3 linked regions of the Homo sapiens genome follow. The protein of the gene in region 1 binds, or shares a complex with, the protein of each later gene. Each region holds a gene or a part of one and is shown on either strand. Other genes may lie near its edges.

Region 1 (7,027 bases):
GCAACGTAGCAAGACCTCATCTCCACAAAAACTAAAAAAATTAGCATGGCATGCTAGTTCATGCCTGTAGTCCTGGCTACTCAGGAGGCTGAGGCAGGAGGATCACTTGAGCCAAGGAGTTTGAAGCTGCAGTGAACCATGATCACACTACTGCAGTCCAGCCTAGGTGACAGAGTGAGACCCTATCTCCAAAAAAAAGTTGGTCGTACAACAAGAGCTGAGAGAGTGAACAAGAGAGTCATTATAACAGGTAGATAATGGAAAGTTTCAGAGAGTGTCAAGTTGGAGGCATTCATATGAGAAGAGCTACCATTCTGTAAGTCAGATGAAACCCACTTAATCATTGTTTTCTTGGTCTTTTCCCTCCACTCCCCACCCCCTAATTTTGTAGCCTCCTTTGTCTGTATGCAGTAGTTACCTTGTGCTTCTCTTTTGTTTAGGGACCTCCAAGATGTTCCTCCCTTCAAGCCCCAATCATGCTGCTCTCTGGACATGAAGGGGAAGTCTACTGCTGCAAGTTCCACCCCAACGGATCCACCTTAGCATCTGCAGGATTTGACCGACTGATATGTGAGGCATAGTTTTTGAATCTGGAATAATTTTTCCTGCCAGATAGTGATTTTTTTTTTTAAATCTTGGGTGCCACAGAAGGTATCACTCTATGTTGGCAACATAACAGGCTGCATGGCTAATATGCTAAAATTGGGGCATGAACATGCTGAATGATCTTGGGTGTAGAACTTGGAGTCCATGGGGTAAATACAGAAGCCATTATTTTACTAGTTGGAAAGTGAGTTGTTCTGGTTTGAGAATGTCTTCCTCATAGAGGCAAATCTCCAGCTAATTTACCAAGGCACTTAGCAATCTAGACATAACAGGTTAATGGCAGTAATGAGGAGAGAAATAACTTTTATTTTCCCAAAGGTATAAGGTCCTCTTAATTCACACCCAGAATCCTAGCTAGCATATGGGAAGGAAGGAATCCTAAAGTGGTAACTCCCTTAAATAATCTACCTGTACATCATTAGGATCTACTACCAGATTTCCATTTTTGAGAAATAAGAATTTCTCATACCCATTTTTGAGAAGTAAGTAGAAAAAGTCGTTTTATTTATACTCCAGCAAATGAAGCCAGAAGGAAAAAAAATCAGATGCTTCTGTTGCTACTTTCTTGCCAGATTATGAGATGAAATGAGTTATTTGGCTCTTTTCTGTTAACTCTTTTCCTCGGTGCCGGGTGGATGATACCCGTCTTCACTGCCCATTTTGATTTGGATGTTCCGGCTCTATGATCCTTAAGCTTACTAGTGGCCAAACGTCTGGATTGCTTAGGGATCTTTGCAGAACATATATGAATTATTGATAGGCTTAATTTCATCAGACAAACTACATAGTTTTTTTTGTTTGGTTGGTCGGTTGGCTTTTTAGAGACGGAGTCTCACTCTGTCACCCAGGTTGGAGTGCCGTGGCGCGATCTCGGCTCACTGCATCCTCCGTCTCCTGGGTTCAAGTGATTCTCCTGCCTCAGTCTCCCAAGAGCTGGGATTGTAGGCGTCTGCCACTACACCTGGCTGATTTTTTTATTTTTATTAAAGATGGGGTTTCGCCGTATCAGCCACGCTGGTCTCGAACTCCTGACCTCAAGTGATCCACCCGTCTCGGCCTCCCAAAGTGCTGGGATTACAGGTGTGAGCCACCGTGCCTGACCTGAGAACTGTTGTTCTGATAAATTTATAAGTACCCTTTGCCTAGTAATGCTCACAGAACCCATCTCCCTAACAGTACTGTGGAATGTCTATGGTGACTGTGATAACTATGCCACACTGAAGGGACACAGTGGAGCAGTGATGGAATTGCATTACAACACAGATGGCAGGTGAGTATTCTGCATAATGGAAGGACAGCTTCTCATACTAATTCTTGGCGTCCTTTCACCTTTCATCCTTTCTCAGGAGACCCTGCTATCAAAAACTACTAATTTTGGGTAGCTACTTTAGTATCCGATTTATCACTGTCACCCCAAGTGAGGTGTTTATAGTCTGTGTATGCAAATATAAAGATGTTACATCGGTCATTTCAACAACCCAGACAAATTTTTCTTTTTTTAAGACATAAAATAAATGTGATTTTTATATGTAGGCTGGAGTGCAGTGACACAAACATGGCTCACTGCAGCCTCAACCTCTTGCTCGAGGGATCCTCCCACTTCAGCCTCCCAAATAGCTGGGGCCACAAGCCCACGCCTCCATGCCCAGCTAATTTTTAAAAATCATTTGTGGAGACATGGTCTTGCTATATTGCTCCTGAGCTCAAGCAGTCCACCTGCCTCAGCCTCCCAAAAATGCTGTGATTACAATAATTAACCACCATGCCTGGCCTGAAATCAGCTATTTCTATTATAAAAATCATTTCTTTTGAGAAACCAAAAAAAGCAGAAAGATGAAAAAATAGTCTATATTTCTACCACTCCAAAGATAATCAGTGTTAATTTTTTTTTTTTGAGACGGAATTTCACTCTTGTTGCCCAGGCTGGAGTGCAATGGCACGATCTCGGCTCACTGCAACCTCCGCCTCCCAGGTTCACGTGTTTCTCTTGCCTCAGCCTCCAGAATAGCTGGGATTACAGGGATGCATCACCGTGCCTGGCTAATTTTGTATTTTTTGTAGAGACTGGGTTTCTCCATGTTGGTCAGGCTGGTCTTGAACTCCCAACCGCAGGTGATCCGCCCACCTCAGCCTCCCAAAGTGCTGGGATTACAGGCATGAGCCACCGTGCCTGGCCAATCACTGTTAATTTTATACATTTTTCTAATGCCTTTTTTTCTACTCAGAACTGTTTAGTTGTTGCATATTTGTTAGAACTATGTGTACAATCTTTTTTATTTATTTATTTATTTTATTTTATTTTTTTGAGACGGAGTCTTGCTCTGTCGCCCAGTCTGGAGTGCAGTGGTGCGATCTCGGCTCACTGCAAGCTCCGTCTCCGGGGTTCACACCATTCTCCTGCCTCAGCCTCCTGAGTAGCTGGGATTACAGGTGCCCGCCACCATGCCCGGCTAATTTTTTTGTATTTTTAATAGAGATGGGGTTTCACCGTGTTAGCCAGGATGGTCTCGATCTCCTGACCTTGTGATCCGCCCGCCTTGGCCTCCCAAAATGCTGGGATTACAAGTGTGAGCCACCGCACCTGGCCAGAACTGTGTGTACAATCTTATTTGCTCCTTTTTTCTCTTAACATTGCTCAGCCAACATCTGATGTCATAAACGTCATTTTAATGACTATATTATTTTAGAATATATTATAGATAATATAGAAATCTGGCTATACAAAAGTAATTACATTGTTAGGTAGTCTGGTAAACATTCATTGTTTTACATTTCTGACCTCTAAAATCTTAGGGTGCTCCATCAATTGATACATAGCATTGTATACATTTTAAATAAAGCATTAGAAAGCTGGGCCTGGTGGCATGTGCTTATAATCCCAGCTATTTGGGAGGCTGAGGCAGGAGGATTCCTGGAGCCCAAGAGTTCAAAACCAGCCTGGGCAACACAGTGAGACTCCATCTCAAAAAAAATGAAAAAAGAAAGCATTATAAGATCAGTTATAACTTAGAAATCATCCTCAGAGGCTGGGCGTGGTTGCTTACGCCTATAACCCTAGCACTGTAGGAGGCTGAGGCAGGAAGATTGCTTGAGCCCAGTTCAAGACCAGCCTGGGCAACATAGTGAGACCTTGCCTCTACAAATGATTTTTAAAAATTAACTGAGCATGGTGGCACAGACCTGTGGTCCCAGCTACTCAGGAGGCTGAGGTGGGAGGATCACTTGAGCCCAGGAGGTCGAGGCTGCAGTGAGCCATGATTCCAACCCGGGTGACAGAGCAAGATCTCATCTCAAAAAAAAAATGAAAGAAAGAAATTGTCCTCAGAGACAAAAGAAAAACTTTGGTAAAGAGAAAAGATTGGAGTCACTCAGCTGTCAGGTCGGTACCACAGTCTGTCTGATCTCTGCAGCACCAGGGAGTTATTAAACATTTCCAAGTGAGAGGGTGTCTTATGTTTAAAATGTTAGCTATCACAAAAGAGGAAAAGATAGAGCAAACTGCTACATTAGATGTATGTCATGGGGACTCAAAGAAGGGGAATTTTTTAAACTTCACAGGGGTAGATCTTTTATCTGGGCCATCTGGGCCTAGAGGACAAATAGGATTTTGGTAGGGTGAGGCATTCCAGCATCATGGGCAAACTGGCGTAGCACAGCAGGTCAGTGATCTTGAAAAATTTGGCACCTTTTGTCAAGTAGGAAAGATAGATTGTTACTGTTTATCTTCACTTATTTCTTTTTTATTCTTTCTCTTACTTTCTAGTATGCTTTTCTCAGCATCCACAGATAAAACCGTGGCTGTGTGGGATAGTGAAACAGGTGAGAGGGTTAAAAGGCTAAAGGGACATACTTCCTTTGTGAATTCCTGTTATCCAGCCAGGAGAGGCCCTCAGCTTGTCTGCACTGGCAGTGACGATGGCACAGTTAAGGTGGGTATTGTCTCTCCGTGTTCCAGTTTCTGAGGTGATGTGATGTGAACCTTATCTTGCCTTGCCACTTGTACTCTAGCTTCCTGTGCAAAACTTAATTTTAGCAGTCATCTCCCATAACACACTTGAAATTTTTCCCCATTTAAAATAAAACATTTAATACAAGTTTTAATTACCCTACAGAATAATAATAGAACCATAGAATAAATTGTTACTTGAAATAGGCCGGGTGCTGTGGCTTACGCCTGTAATCCCAGCACTTTGGGAGGCCGAGGCGGGTGGATCACGAGGTCAAGAGATCAAGACCATCCTGGCTAACACGGTGAAACCCCGTCTCTACTAAAAATACAAAAAATAAGCCGGGCGTGATGGCGGGCACCTGTAGTTCCAGTTGCTTGGGAGGCTGAGGCAGGAGAATGGTGTGCACCCGGGAGGTGGAGCTTGCAGAGATTGCACCACTGCACTCCAGCCTGGGCGACAGAGCGAGACTCTGTCTCAAAAAAAAGAACTGTGACAGTAATATACGTGTCTTTCAAGGCTGTTATGAGTATCTCCACCAACAGGGAGGTAGCAAAAAAAAAAAAAAGGCTGTTCTGAGATTATAGACAATATATAAAAAGTTCAGTGAATAGTTTTAGTATGGCACAAGATGGGAACTTAAACATCGTTTAGTCAGATGGTTGCCAGCCTATCTTTATATCATCATCACCTGAAGAACCTGTTAAAAATACCCAAAGAATCTGGTTCAGTGGATCTGCAATGGGAATCAGATATTTTAATGTGTCCTTCAAGTGATTCAGTGTAGCCAGTCTCACATTCTGGGAGCCACTGATCTCACTGAGCATCCTCATTTTATAAATAAGGAAACTGAGGCCTAGAAATAATAATTTATCTCAGAGGCACACAAGGACACAGTACATCATAGTACCAACCATTTGATTCTCTCTTTGACACGAATTTTGGGCTCTGGTTTATATTTTAATTGTTAAACAGTGAGGGACTTCAAAAGAGTACATCTGGGAAACTACACCCCCATACTTCTTATTGCTTTTTAAATGAATTAATGAATTTGCTTTTTTTTTTTTTTCTTTGAGACAGGGTCTTGCTCTATCGCCCAGGCTGGAGTGCAGTGGCACAATCTTGGCTCACTGTAGCCTCCACCTCCCGGGTTCAAGTGATTCCCCAGCCTCAGCCTCTTGAGTAGCTGGGATTACAGGTGCACACCACCATACCTGCCTAATTTTTCTATTTTTGGTAGAGATGGGGTTTCACCATGTTGCCCAGGCTGGAGTGCAGTGGCGCAATCTCAGCTCACTGCAACCTCTACCTCCTGGGTTCAAGCAGTTCCCCTGCCTCAGCCTCCCTAGTAGCTGGGACTACAGGGACCCATACCACGCCCAGCTAGTTTTTGTATTTTCAGTAGAGGCAGGGGTTCATCATATTGGCCAGGCTGGTCTCAAACTCCTGACCTTGTGATCCGCCCCCCTCGGCCTCCCAAAGTGCTGGGATTACAGGCGTGAGCCACCACACTTGGCTGAGACGTTTTTCTACTGAGTGGTTTTCTTATACCTAATCACTTGGGGCCCCTTGATGGTTGGATGGGAGGAGAGTCTGTTGTTTAAGATTGGTTTCTAAACCAGAGCTCTGACCTAGATGTCACTGTAGTTGGAGAGTCTTAACAGTAGCTGATTTACTAATTGTCATTTCAGAAGATAGTAAGAGGTGGAAATGCCCCAGTGAATTTTGTTAACATTATTATTGAGGGCCTGCTGTAATAAATATCTAGGAACTATTTAGGTAGTAGAAAAAGAGTATATGTCCTTTCTGTCTGCCTTCTTTTGGTTTTTTGCTTCTCTTCTGCCTTAATTAAACATGATTTGGAATAGTTATTTTTACCTTATTACTCAAGTTAATACTTTTTTTAATAAGCAGTATGTCACATCACCTAAAGATGACTGCTTTTTAACCAGCTCCTATTTTTAATGTCAGTATATTTATATTTAAGGCATCATTAAACAGCTTTTTGCAATGTACTTTTCAGTTACTTGTGAAGTTGGAATGCTTTGTGTTCTTGTATTTTTGTTACTAGGTTGCAAGTACAGGAATTGAATAACTTCAGTTTAAGAGGAAAAAAAGTCATGTTGCTTTTTACATGTCAGAGTTCTTAACAGAAAGCAAAGGTTTCCAACAGCACTTGCATTTTTAGTCTAAAAGCATTCTGGGCATTATTCATACAGATCGTTTTCAAACTTTTTATCAAGTGCATTCTTCTAATAAAATTAAGTGAAATACTGCGTGTATGTGTGTATGTACTCATATATATATAAATTTCCCTTTCATGAGCAGTTCAGTCCTAAAGCCAGTTATATAGGCCAAAGCAGGGAAGGTGCTCTAGTTAGAGATGGGCCAAGGTGGCCCAGAGTAGAGTGTCAGAGCACAAGTGTGGTAAGGAGAGCATCCACACTGGGCAGGGCAGTACATTGTAGGGAGTA
Region 2 (7,027 bases), 6.6 Mb from region 1:
CTGTTGGTTTTCTTGGGAGAATCTCAAGATTTGAAAATCATTGTAGAACTTTTTGAGGCTTTTCATTAAACATTTAAAAATTCTTGTCTCACTTCAGATAATGTTCAGATATGACAACAAGGTCTTACAGGAATTTTTTAAGTCTTCATAAATTCTTTTTGAGAGTAGTCACACCCATTTTTGTAATAGCAGGAAGGCATCTTGGCTGGGCACAGTGGCTTGTGCCTGTAATCCCAACACTTTGGGAGGCTCAGGCAGGAGGATTGCTTGAGGTCAGGAGTTCAAGACTAGCCTGACTAATATAGTGAGACCCCATCTTTATTTAAAAATAATAATAAATTTTTAAAAATTAAAAGAAAAGCATCTTGTATAGACCTTTTTTTGTACGTAAGCTTTTTTCCACTCTTATTCTTTTTTAGTGACAAAACATAAAGGTACTGAGAAAAGAGAATCCCCTTCACCAGCACCGAAGCCTAGAAAAGTAGAGTTATCTGAATCGGGTAAGTTTGTTGTTTTTTTTTGTGATTTTGGTTTGTTTGTTTTTGTTTTTCTTAAAGCTGATTTTGATTTTTTGCACATTTGGTCATCCCCTTCTGCTTGAAGATTAAGTATAGGGTAAGAGCTAAGACTCTGAAGGCAGACAGACTTGGGTGGAATCCCCCATTCCAGAATTTAACTGTTTCTGTTTTAATTAACTTATCTGAGCCTTTCTTCTTTCATCTCCGAAATAGGGACAGTAGAGGTTTTTGACAGTTAACTGTATCTGCTTGTAAAATGCTTGGCACCAGCCTGACCTGTAGTAAATGCCTAAATAAATTTTATTATATTTGGTGAAGATAGTCTAAATCAGCCTGTGAATTGGCATTTTAAACTCTTTTTAAAAAAAATATATAGTAGTTGTATTTTTGATCCAACCAAATGAAGGTTTGAGAGACTATTTTCCTATTCAAATTGCAAATTTTCTATATGCTTAACTAAAGAAACACTTTCTAAATGCATCCATCTTTCAGAAGAAGATAAAGGTGGCAAAATGGCTGCAGCAGATTCTGTGCAGCAGAGACGCCAATACAGACGACAAAACCAGCAGTCTTCATCTGGTATGGATGGTGATGAAAGTTTTTTTTCTACCTGTATTTCCTATTAAAAAATACTTGGTATATAAACATCTGTGTGTGCAGCATGAGTACTTACTTGCCTACATAGAAATCTGTCTGAGGAGGCAGGATTGTTTCTTTTTTTGGTTTTAAGTCCTTTTGCAAAATTTAATTTTCTGTTACATTGTTATAAAAGTAATAGGTCCCTAGGATACAATAGTGAAACAGAAAACAGAAGTATAAAATTGGAAACGTATCATTCTTTTTCCAACCTCCTAAAGCTTTTATTCAGAAATTTTCTGTGCATATAGAAAAAGGAAAAGAAAAAACCCCACAGAAGCTCAACTGTAGATATGTTGCCTCACTTTTTAACTTAACAGTATATTTAGAACATCTTTCCCTATTAAAAATCTAGACTGGGCGCAGTGGCTCACACCTGTAGTCCCAGCACTTTGGGAGGCCGAGGTGAGCAGGCCGAGATCAGGAGTTCAAGACCATCCTGGCCAATAGGGCGAAACCCCATCTCTACGAAAAATACAAAAATTAACCGGGCATAGTGGCGCACACCTGTAATCCCAGTTACTTGGGAGGCCCAGGCAGGAGAATCCCTTGAACCCAGGAGGCAGAGGTTGCAGTGAGTGAGCTGAGATCGCGCCACTGCACTCCAGCCTGGGAGCCTGGGCAACAGAGCAAGGCTTTGTTTCCACAAAAAAAATAATAATAATCTACCCTATTATTTTACTATTTGCATTTTTTATTGTAAGAATATACCAGGCTGGGTATGGTGGCTTAACCTGTAACCCCAACACTTTGGGAGGCTGAGGTAGATGGATCACTTGAGGTCAGGAGTTCGAGACCAGCCTGGCCAACATGGCAAAACCTTGTCTCAACTAAAAATACAAAGATTAGTTAGGCATGATGGTGCAGACCTGTAATCCCAGCTACTCAGGAGGCACAAGCGGTCTTTCTGCCTTGGCCTCCCAAATGCTGGGGTTAAAGGGGTGAGCCACCGTGCCCAGCTCAAACTTCTTAGAGTATGCCATCTTGATTGGATTACACTGTGGAAATTATTTCTATGTCTTATTTAAATAATATGCTTGGCTTTGAAATCATTGATCATATATTGATAATGATTCTGTTCAGAACTGATGGCCTGTATACATGCTTGCTTACCCTAGTGAACACTCCATCCACCTAGATTTCAGAAAACTTGGACAGATTCAAGCACAAACCTAATGTAATATTTTTTTAATTTTGTAATTATAGACTCTGGCTCCTCCTCCTCCTCAGAAGATGAACGACCCAAGAGATCCCATGTGAAGAATGGTGAGGTTGGCAGGCGGCGGAGACATTCCCCTTCCCGGAGTGCTTCTCCATCACCACGAAAGCGCCAAAAAGAGACTTCCCCTCGGTAACATCTTTGCTTCAGTGATGTTCACTGATGTTCTGTAATTGTGATGAAATTTGATAACTTGGGATTATTTGAGAATTTGGTTAACTCCTTCAAGTATTTGGATGTGGTTGGATTTTTGTTTGCTTTTTAGGGTTTCTGTTTTGTTTTGTTTTTGCTTTATTGGTGGTTATTAATAATTAATTTAGAATTGGTAAATTTTAAACCACCATGTCATATATGTGTGCATGATTAGAAAAATAAACCAAACTATTATAGCAGTAACTCCTGAACATCTTTGAATATTTAAAAATGTCTCCATTAATGGTACTTAATCCACCCAAGTAAATAATTTAGTGAATGGAATTCTTGACATTTGTTTTTCTCCACTGCTCTCAGGATGCAGATGGGAAAGCGATGGCAATCGCCAGTGACTAAAAGGTTGGTTAGACACTACTTTGTAAATTAGGGTTACATGTCAAAAATTGTAGTGACTTAATTTCCTATTTAGGTGACCTCATCTCATTCTTAAATATATGGTGGCTGTGGCTGTGAATGTGCAGATCCTAAGTTGTTTTGGTTTGAGTATTTTTTTTAACACATTAGATTAATGATAGGGAGAATTATACATGAGCTATTTGGTTTAGACCCTTATTTGAACTTAGATTTTTAATATCTGGTTGTGCTCTTTTGTGATAATTTGCATCAACTTACATCAAGCAGCACGCAGATTTTTAACAGTATCTGGATACTTTTCCAGAGATAGGATTATTGCTCCTTAGATTTGGGGGGAGGGACTTTGTATTTGTGGTGACATTAGGGAGGGCAAGGAAAAACTAGGGAGAAACTTTAGAAATATTAAAAGTGAGAGGATCACGAGGTCAGGAGATCAAGACCATCCTGGCCAACATGGTGAAACCCCATTTCTACTAAAAATACAAAAATTAGCTGGGAGTGTTGGCGCGTGCCTGTAATCCCAGCTACTCGGAAGGCTGAGGCAGGAGAATCGCTTGAACCCAGGAGGCGGAGGTTGCAATGAGCTGAGATCACGCCACTGTACTCCAGCCTGGCAACAGAGCTAAATTCCCTCTCAAAAATAATAATAATAATAATAATAATAATAATAATAATAAATAAAAGCGAATGGAAGGCTTTGGCCCTGTTCAGTCTTTCCAGTACTAGAAAGGTGGGTTGCATAGCTCTCTTTTTTTTTTTTTTTTTTTTTTTGTTGAGATGGAGTCTGGCTCTATCACCCAGGCTGGGGTGCATTGGTGCGACCTCGGCTCACTGCAACTTCTGCTTTGTAGGTTCAAACGATTCTCCTGCCTCAGCCTCCTGAGTAGCTGGGACTACAGGCACATGCCACCATGCCCAGCTAATTTTTGTATTTTTAGTAGAGAAGGGATTTCGCCATGTTGGCCAGGATGGTCTCAAACTCCTAAAGTCAGGTGATCCACCCGCCTCGGCCTCCCAAAGTGTTGGGATTACAGGCATGAGCCACTGGGCCCGACCTGCATATCTTTATTGAAACTTTTGATTATTAGTGTCACTGTGACCATAAAACTGTAAAATTTTAGAGCCAAATCCCTAATTCAGGCCTTACTCTCATAAGTGAGAAGATAGCGGCCCTGATGGGGTAGTTTCTTAGGGCCGCAAAGTGACAAAGTTGGATCTTAGACCTATACATTTGGCATTACACTAGTCTGTCTTAACCAGCTTTCTGCTTTTGGGGCCTTAGCTGCCACTGAATTTTGAAGTATTTATCCTTGCTGAAGCTATCCCACTGTCCTTTTTGTAGCTCAGTTTTTGAAGCTGTGTTGTTTTAGGTAATCTCATCAATAAGAGTGTTTTCTTGGAAAGGAACCAGTGAGCAGTGTTTGTGATGGAGCAAAGCACGGGGTATTTACACTGTGGAGGAAACTGCTCCATGATAATAAAAGATAAAAACCTAAAAAAGATTAGTTTGGCTGCTAAAGCATTCCTTTCCCAGCTATAATTATCTCTGGCTTTTGTGAAGTTGCTAGCACAGCAACTAAACAATTGCTTTACAGAGTTAGATTAGTGGTGCAATTTCTTCTCTTTCATCTCCCCTTCCCTCCCCACCCCCCCACCAAATTATGGCACTACTTTCTGTTCTGGAAAGAGATTCCTCACAGCAGTAAAATCAACACTAATGTTTATTGCTCTACTCCAGGATGTTTTTGTTTTGTTTCTCGTCATTTAAAAAGTATTTTAAGTTATATACCAGCAGCTTCAAGTTTAATGCCATTAGAAATTGCCATCAGGTTCCTAGGATTTAGAGATGGAGGAAGGATTATTTGGAATTATGCTTCAGTATCGTATTTTAGAAGGGGAGATAGAGGCCGGGTGCGGTGGCTCATGCCTGTAATCTCAGCACTTTGGGAGGCTGAGTTGGGTGGATCACCTGAGATCAGACGTTTGAGACCAGCCTGGCCAACACGACGGAACCCCATCTCTACTAAAAATACAAAAAAGTTAGCCGGGCGTGGTGGCGCATGCCTGTAGTCCCAGCTACTCGGGAGGCTCAGGCAGGAGAATCGTTTGAATCCGGGAGGTGGAGGTTGCAGTGAGCCGATATCGTGCCATTGCACTCCAGCCTGGGCAACAAGAGCAAAACTCCGTCTCAAAAAAAAAAAAAGAGGCTCACGCCTGTAATCCCAGCACTTTGGGAGGCCGAGGCGGGTGGTTCACGAGGTCAGGAGATAAAGACCATCCTGGCTAACACGGTGAAACCCCGTCTCTACTAAAAATACAAAAAATTAGCTGGGTGTGGTGGCGGGCACCTGTAGTCCCAGCTACTTGGGAGGCTGAGGCAGGAGAATGGTGTGAACCCAGGAGGCAGAGCTTGCAGTAAGCCCAGATCGTGCCAGTGCACTCCAGCCTGGGCAACAGAGCGAGACTCTGTCTCAAGAAAAGAAGGGGAGATAGAGCCTGGTTTTGAATATTTTATATGTATTTAGTGTGAGGTCTTAGTCCCCACAAAGCATAAGCAGATTTAAGTTGAAAAATTTAGTGGTGACTTTTAGGATTTTGTCTGTTCAGTTAACAGAGATTTCTTAGTTTCTAACGGGAACCAAGACAAAACATAATTCCAGATTCACAGGAAGCATGAGTCCTGTCCTGGGCAAAAAAAATTAAGAGCTTGGAGCAGAGACGTCCAGACTTGGGTCTTAAGCCACTTGTGACTATTGGCATTTTTGAATTTCTGTATTAGAGTCTCTAAAGCAGTTGATTCCTAATAAGGAATTAGAATCACCTGGAGAGCCTTTCCCAAAAACACCTGGCTGGACCTTAGCCCAGACCTGGTAGGCATAAATCTCACATAAGCTTCCTAGGTGGTTCTAATGTGCATCCCCAATAAAAAGCAGTGCTCTTATGTGCTGTTGCCGAACTTTTTCACTCTGTGTCATGTCAAGAATGTTTGGTATTGTGATCCAGAGTAAAAGAAAAATTTCACAAAACGGTACTTACCCTTGTCACAAGTAAAACACTCTGGTTTTATTAAGTTTTTTAATGCTGCCACCCAGGGTCTTGACTGATGATCTTGACCTGTAGTTTGAAAAACACTGTTCTGAAACTTAGTAACCATTGCTGCCCTTGGGGTTAATGATAATTGAAACCGTGTCTTCTGGGTCACTTAACTATAAATGCCACTGACTCAAAGTTAACTATATAGGCCAGGCGTGGTAACTCACACCTATAATCCCAGCACTTTGGGAGGCTGAGGCAGGCAGATCACCTGAGGTCAGGAGTTCAAGACCAGCTTGGCCAACATGGTGAAACTCCGTCTCTACAAAAATATTTTAAAAAATTAGCCAGGCATGATTATGGGTGCCTGTAATCCCAACTACTCAGGAGGCTGAGGGGGGAGAATTGCTTGAACCTGGGAGGCGGAGGTTGCAGTGAGCCAAGATCATGCCATTGCACTCCAGCCTGGGCGACAGAGTGAGACGCCATCACACACACACAAAAAAAAGAAAAAAAATTAACTATAATTCTTCTTGGTTTAGTGGTAGACGGAGGAGAAGTCCATCCCCACCACCCACCAGAAGGCGACGGTCTCCTTCTCCCGCCCCTCCTCCTCGACGGCGCAGGACTCCCACACCACCACCACGACGAAGGTACTTTGTCAAATATGCTAACTGGAGCATCTCCCCAACTCCCCCCGCCCCTGATAACATCAGATGAGTAATGGTGCTCACTTCCTAACAAGGTTGGAGAGAGGCACAGCTCATGTGTGCATGTGAAAACCCAATCATCATGCTTATGAACTACAAAAGGATCTCTGAATCTTTCTGATGATTATATCTTATTAGAGTAAGCAGACTAGCATTGTTCAGCCAGTCATAAAAGAACACGTATGATTCCATCTATATGAAAAGTCTAGAATACACAAATCTATAGAGATAGAAAACAGATTAGGGTGGGGTGGACATGGGGATGGTAATAGCTGCAGAACTATATGAATATACTAAAATCATTTAATTGTATACTTTAAATGGACCTTAAATGGGTAAATAGG
Region 3 (7,027 bases), on another chromosome or scaffold:
CTGAAAACAGGATATATGAGAAGTACAAGAGGGGGCACTGTGGTTGGGCAGTGGTTCACATCTGTAATCCCAACACTTTGGGAGGTCGAGGTGGGAGGATCCCTTGAGGCCAGGAGTTAAAGAATGGCCTGGGCAACAAAGTGAGCACTCTCTCTACAAAAATACTTAGTTGGATGTGGTGGAGTGTGTCTAGTCCCAGCTACTTAGGATGCTGAGGTGAGAGGATCACTTGAGCCCAGGAGTTTGAGGCTGCAGTGAGCCATGATCACGCCACCATGATCACCCAGACTAGGTGATAAAGCTAGACCCTGTCTCAAAAAATAATAAAAAGGGGCACTATAAGTTAAGAGTTGGGGGTGACCAGTGAGAAATACCAACGAGTCTGGGAGGCTCAATAAAGTCAATATAATTTATAATAAATACGTCACATACATGTGGTGATTCTTACATATAAAATGAAAATGGGCCAGGTGTGGTGGCCCACGCCTGTAATCCCAGCACTTTGGGAGGCGAGGCAGGCTGATCACTTGAGGTCAAGAGTTCGAGACCAACCTGGCCAACATGCTGTCTCTACTAAAAATATAAAAAATTAGCCAGTCATGGTGGCGGATGTCTGTAATCCCAGCTACTAGGAAGGCTGAGGCAGGAGAATCGCTTGAAACTGGGAGGTAGAGATTGCAGTCAGCCGAAATCACGCCACTGCACTCCAGCCTGGGCGACAAGAGCAAAACTCTGTCTTGAAAAAAAAAAAAAAAAGAAAATGAAAAAGTCGAGAGAGCGAGGGTAAGTATAGGCAGGGCAGGTGTGTTAATGGGCTACCTTCTCAGTGATGCCATTGAACTTAGCCAGGATGTTGAAGAGTGGCACTTGGGGAATGATGAGCTGCTCCTTCTCGTCCTTGTAGAGGGGGGCAGTAGGAAGGTCCAGCGTCAGGTACATAAAAGTGGACTCCACCATTGTCTCCTGGTACTCGTCATTATGGAGCAACTGCTCTTTTTCTTCTGCTGGCTAGAAATGAATGAGAAGAAAAGAGAGGAAAGGAGTGTGACGGGTATAGGAACCAACACAGAACCGATGTTTTACCACGCCGACATTTCCTTCATCTGAAAGAACAAAGAGAAGTGCCCGAGAGATTGGGCAGTTTGGCATGCACCACCTGGTTAGATTAACTTAAGAACCAACAGGTTTCCTTCTTTAAAGATATTTTGCTTATATACCAGACTATCTAAAAAGCCCTGAGGCCAAGTGTGATGGCTCACGGCTGTAATCTCAACACTTTGGGAACAAAGGTGAGAGGACTGCTTGAGTCCAGGACTTCCAGACCAGCCTGGGCAACACAGTGAGACTCCATCTCTACAAAAAAAAAAAAAAATTGGCCGGGCATGATGGCTCACACCTGTAATCCCAGCACTTTGGGAGGCCGAGGCAGGTAGATCACCTGAGGTCAGGAGTCCAAGACCAACGTGACCAACACGGAGAAACCCCGTCTCTACTAAAAATACAAAATAAGCCGGGCGTGGTGGTGGCGCCTGTAATCCTAGCTACTCGGGAGGCTGAGGCAGGAGAATCACCTGAACTCGGGAGGCGGAGGTTGCGGTGAGCCGAGATAGTGCCATTGCACTCCAGCCTGGGCAACAAGAGTGAAACTCCGTCTCAATAAAATAAATAAATTAATTAATTAATTAAATTAAACAAAAATAAAAATAAAAATTAGCCCGGTGTGGTGGTGTGTATCTATGGTCCCAGTTTCTGGGGAGGTTGAGGTGGGAGGATCACTTCAGCAAGGGAGGTTGAGGTTGCAGTGAACCATAATCACGCCACCACACTCAGCCTGAGTGACAGAGATCTTGTCTCAAAAAGGAAAAAAAATCCATTAAAAAAAGAAAGTGGGCCGAGCACGGTGGCTCATGTCTGTAATCCCAGCACTTTGGGAGGCCAAGGGAGGTGGATCACCTAAGGTCAGGAGTTTGAGACCATCCTGACCAACATGGTAAAACCTCTTCTCTACTAAAAATAGAAAAATTAGCCAGGCATAGTGGCGCATGCCTGTAATCCCAGCTACTTCGGAGGCTGAGGCAGGAGAATGGTTTGAACCTGGGAGGTGGAGGTTGCAGTGAGCTGAGATCATGCCATTGCACTCCAGACTGGTCAACAAGAGCAAAACTCCATCTCAAAAAAGAAAAGCTCTAAGACCATCTAGGAAGCTTAGCTGAGGGCCAGGCACGGTGACTCACGCCTGTAATCCCAGCACTTTGGGAGGCCGAGGCAGGTAGATCACCTGAGGTCAGGAGTTCGAGACCAGCCTGGACCAACATGGTGAAGCCCCGTCACAACTAAAAATACAAAATTAGCTGGGCGTGGTGGCAAGCGCCTGTAATCACAGCCACTCAGGAGGCTAAGGCAGGAGAATCGCTTGAACCCAGGAGGTAGAGGTTGCAGTGAGCTGAGATGGCGCCACTGCAACTCCAGCCTTGGCGACAGAGGGAGACTAAGAAAAACAAAAAGAAAGCTTAGCTGAGCTTTCTGAAAAAACACAGCAGCACCACCTAGTGGCCAGAACACTTAAACCAGCACAGTACATCCAACCACTAACTCCCAAACTGAAAAAGTGCACTAGTATGACAGGGACCAGGCAGAGCTGCCACTAGGCAGGTGCTTTGTTGAACCTCTTCACAGGGCAAGCAGGCTTGTCAGTTCTCTGAGCATCTCTTCATCTCCCCTACGTCCCCTCAAGCAATATGAATCAGTCCAAGACCCAGGCTCAATTAACTCACCAGATCAGGATGGGGAAGCTTTTTAGTGAAGATCCTCATGGACCCCTGGAAAACATCAGTCACAATAGCTGCACAAACAGGAAGCAAGAGACAAATTCCGTGAGGATGGAAAACATGTCTGAAGTATATTTCCAGCTTCTAAATTTCTGAAATAAACCAGCATCTTCCAGCAAAAGACACAGAGCTCTCACTAAACACAGAAGTTTCCTTTTGTACTATATACCACCAGGGTACCTTTATAATTATTTGTGTAAATAATTACTTTATTTCTCTTAAGACAACTTTTTATCCTCCATCACAGGGCCTGGTCCATAAAAGAAAAGGTAAATGTGTTCAAAATGAAGGAATGGTGATACATGAATTACAAAAAAATTCACAAGCAAAACAAGGTACAGCCAAGGAACTTCCCATAACCATAAGCTACTTTCAAAGGGAGACAATGTCCAAACTGTAATGAAGACAAGAGGACAATGACAGACTAAGAGATGGGCCAGAACAGGATCAAAGCAACAAGAGAGAAAGCACAACCAAGTTCTAGAACCCTGCCAAGACGCAAGTTAGAGAGCTCAGAGGGTTAACACAGGCTGAAGACACCTGGTAGAGAGGGCAGGGCCATCCAGTGGGAAAAGCAACAGGCCACAATCCCACATCAAGACACCATCACATCTATAATCCTAGCACTTTGGGCAGATCACCTGAGGTCAGGAGTTTGAGACCAGCCTGGCCAACATGGAGAAATCCCATCTCTACTAAAAATACAAAAATCAGCTGGGCGTGGTAGTGGGTGCCTGTAATCCCAGCTACCCTTGGGAGACTGAGGGAGAAGAACTGCTTGAACCTGGGAGATGGAGGCTACAGTGAGCTGAGACCGTGCCACTGCATAGCCTAGGTGACAGAGCAAGACTCTGTCTCAAAATATATATATAATAAAATATCATTGGGACTATAACCATATTCTAGCAAAAACTATGGAGAGGGGCCTATTCAGAAAGAACATGTAGTTTATCTATAACATAGATACTAGCCTACCCCAGATAAACAGTTAACAAAAGAATGGGAAGTTGCCTCAGCCTCCCAAGTCGCTGGGACTACAGGCACATCCCACCACACCTGAATAACTTTTGTATTTTTGGTAGAGATGGGGTTTCGCCATGTTGGCCAGGCCGGTCTCAAACTCCTGACCTCAGGTAATCCACCCACCTCGGCCTCTCAAAGAGCTGGGATTATAGGCATGAGCCATTGCGACCGACCGCAAAGTTTTTTAAAAGGGAACAAAATAACTCCTTTTTATAAGTAAATGACTTACTCTTCTTTTTCTTCTTTGTGCCCCCCAGAGCTGAGTGCAGAGCATTCAGAAACCAAGACAGAAAGTCAACGCCATCTCCTGGAAAAAAAGGAAGGGTGGAAAACGTTGAAGCTAAGTGGCATTAGAGTTAACTTAAACCATGCACTGGTTGGCATTCCTGGTTCTCCCCCTTCCTCTCTGGCCATGCCATCCCATCCCAACTGCCGTGCATCCTCCTCTATCTTATCATTAAATGCTGGCACTCCTCAAGGTCAAGCTCTCACTCCTCCGATCTTGACTCTCTCCATAGGCTCTCTGATTCATACCAGGACTGTATCGCATCACTCAGTGATGACCAAAACAAATGAATATGACCTTTTAACATCCACTTTTCTCCAGAGTGAGCTCAAACTTCCTTCTTCCCTTCTGCAGCTCATGAAGATTCCTGTCTTTTAGGAAAGTGACTAGCACCCAGACTGAAAAGGCATACAGAACAAGGGGTTCTGAAAGCAGATTGACAATATTCCATGAAAATGCTGTCTACGGAACCTGCCACTCAGACATTTCAGGGATAGTGGCTACTTTTTTTTTTGAGACAGAGTCTCACTCTGTCGCCCAGGCTGGAGTGCAGTGGCATGATCTCAGCTCACTGCAACCTCCGCCTCCTGGGTTCAAGCGATTCTCCCACCTCAGTCTCCTGAGTAGCTGGGATTACAGGTGCCTGCTACCATGCCCAGCTAATTTTTGTATTTTTAGTAGAGACGGGGCTTCACCATGTTGGCCAGGCCGGTCTCGAACTCTTGACCTCAAGTGATCCTCCCGCCTCAGCCTCCCAAAGTACTGGGATTACAGGCATGAGCCACTGCGCCCAGCCAGATAATGACTACTTTCTCTTCAACGAAGATTTGCTTCTATTTAGTTCCTCTTTGCTCACGCAATTAAAATCTCAAAGACTATAGTATATCTTCCTCAACTTCATTTCCCTAAACCCAGAGGCCTCTAACAACTCCATAGAATGATTTTCTTTTTATTCCCTGTACACAGAATGCTCTTATGTAACAAACTACCACAGCAAGAAACACTTCACACATCTAAACACTCGGCAACTAATAACCTACTAGGTCTCAGAGATGGAGGAAATTATGTTTATGTGACATCATAACTATCCTAGCCAATAGTGGCTATGACAGAAGAAACTAGACACGTTGATTCTCAGGGTACCCTGGTTTTTCTGCAACTCTACAACCCAATTATGCCCTAACTTTCCAAGCTGCCAAAAGCTGACAGGCCCCACTATCCACCTTCAGGCCATAAGTCACCTGTGGAACACAGTGAATGCTGACACTCATCCATCCATTCATGGTCCACAAAAAAATCATTCTCAACACAAATTTCTTCCTTTCTTGCAGCCTTAATATAAAACCCTGGGAGCTCAGGGAGTTGGTCCAGAAACAGAAATGTCTCTATAAACACAAGATAACCTAGCCACCTAGTTCTTGGGAATTAGATGGTCCTACAAAGCACACAAACAGGCTGTCACCTGTTTAGAAGGGTGAGGCACCCAGATTTTTTCTTCGCGACACAGCGTCTCACTCTGTCACCCAGGCTGGAGTGCAGTGATGCAACTTCAGCTCACTGCAAGCTCTGCCTCCCAGGCCCAAGGAATCCTTCCACCTCAGTTTCCCAAGTAGCTGGGACTACAGGCGTGTGCCATCATGCCCGGCTAACTTTTACATTTTTTGTCGAGAGGGAGTCTCACTATGTTCCTCAAGCTGGTCTTGAACTCTTGGGCTCAAGCAATCCTCCCACTTCGGCCTCCCAAAGTGCTGGGATTACAGGCATGAGCCAGCGCGCCTGGCCCCAGATTAAGATTTCATTGGCCATGTTGTAACCAACCCGAAGTGTATCTTATTTCCTACTAACCCTGAAACAAGTGCTCCATGGGCCCCATTCCTTACCACCTTGATTCCTCCTATTTCTCCTTAAGTACCAGAGACTCTTAAAAGCCACTACTCGGCCGGGCGTGGTGGCTCACGCCTGTAATCCCAGCACTTTGGGAGGCCGAGGCGGACGGATCACGAGGTCAGGAGATCGAGACCATCCCGGCTAAAACGGTGAAACCCCGTCTCTACTAAAAATACAAAAAATTAGCCGGGCGTAGTGGCGGGCGCCTGTAGTCCCAGCTACTTGGGAGGCTGAGGCAGGAGAATGGCGTGAACCCGGGAGGCGGAGCTTGCAGTGAGCCGAGATCCCGCCACTGCACTCCAGCCTGGGCAACAGAGCGAGACTCTGTCTCAAAAAAAAAAAAAAAAAAAAAAAAGCCACTACTCGACGTCCCCTCTAAGTCAATCCTCAGCCAGAATAATGTTTTTCTTTTTATTTTACAGACAGAGGTCTCACTCTGTTGTCCAGGCTGGAGTACAGTGGGACCAACATGGCTCACTGAAGCCTCTACCTCCTAGGCCCAAGCGATCCTCCAACCTCAGCCTCTCAAGTAGCTGGACTACAGGTACATGCCACCATGCCTGGGTAATTTTTAAAAATTTTTTGTAGATATAGGGTCTATGTCACGCAGGATGGTCTCTAACTCCTGGGCTCAAGCAATCCACCCACCTTGATCTCCCAAAGTGGTGGGATTACAGGTTTGAGTGACCATGCCCAGCTGGAATAATGTTTTAAAAACAAATTCATAAGTCTGATGTCACATCTTTGTTAAAAGCCTTCAATGAGGCCGGGCATGGTGGTTCACACCTGTAATCCCAGCACTTTGGGAGGCCGAGGCGGGTGGATCACCTGAGGTGAGGAGTTCGATACCAGCCTGACCAACGTGGTGAAACTCCGTCTCTACTAAAAATACCAAAAAATTAGCCAGGTATGGTGGTGGGTGCCTGTAGTCCCAGCTACTCGGGAGGCTGAGGCGGCAGAATAGCTTGAACTGGGGAGACAGAGGTTGCAGTGAGCCGAGATC

What was found. The genes of interacting proteins can lie anywhere in the genome.
Region 2: SNRNP40 (region 1) and SRRM1 share a complex: the UniProt entries of both Homo sapiens proteins name them as parts of the minor spliceosome.
Region 3: SNRNP40 (region 1) and USP39 share a complex: the UniProt entries of both Homo sapiens proteins name them as parts of the U4/U6-U5 tri-snRNP complex.

What each region holds. Positions count from the first base shown.
Region 1 is NC_000001.11:31,286,762-31,293,788, reverse strand, and holds part of SNRNP40 (U5 small nuclear ribonucleoprotein 40 kDa protein), read left to right. Parts: intron 1-440; coding exon 441-570; intron 571-1,782; coding exon 1,783-1,876; intron 1,877-4,369; coding exon 4,370-4,535; intron 4,536-7,027. UniProt on the Homo sapiens protein: Required for pre-mRNA splicing as component of the activated spliceosome. Component of the U5 small nuclear ribonucleoprotein (snRNP) complex and the U4/U6-U5 tri-snRNP complex, building blocks of the spliceosome.
Region 2 is NC_000001.11:24,660,300-24,667,326, forward strand, and holds part of SRRM1 (serine/arginine repetitive matrix protein 1), read left to right. Parts: intron 1-419; coding exon 420-500; intron 501-1,010; coding exon 1,011-1,097; intron 1,098-2,360; coding exon 2,361-2,505; intron 2,506-2,883; coding exon of another isoform or gene 2,884-2,925; intron 2,926-6,515; coding exon 6,516-6,626; intron 6,627-6,683; exon of another isoform or gene 6,684-6,788; intron 6,789-7,027. UniProt on the Homo sapiens protein: Part of pre- and post-splicing multiprotein mRNP complexes. As a component of the minor spliceosome, involved in the splicing of U12-type introns in pre-mRNAs. Involved in numerous pre-mRNA processing events.
Region 3 is NC_000002.12:85,633,184-85,640,210, reverse strand, and holds part of USP39 (ubiquitin carboxyl-terminal hydrolase 39), read right to left. Parts: intron 4,159-7,027; coding exon 4,081-4,158; intron 2,843-4,080; coding exon 2,775-2,842; intron 1,009-2,774; coding exon 820-1,008; intron 1-819.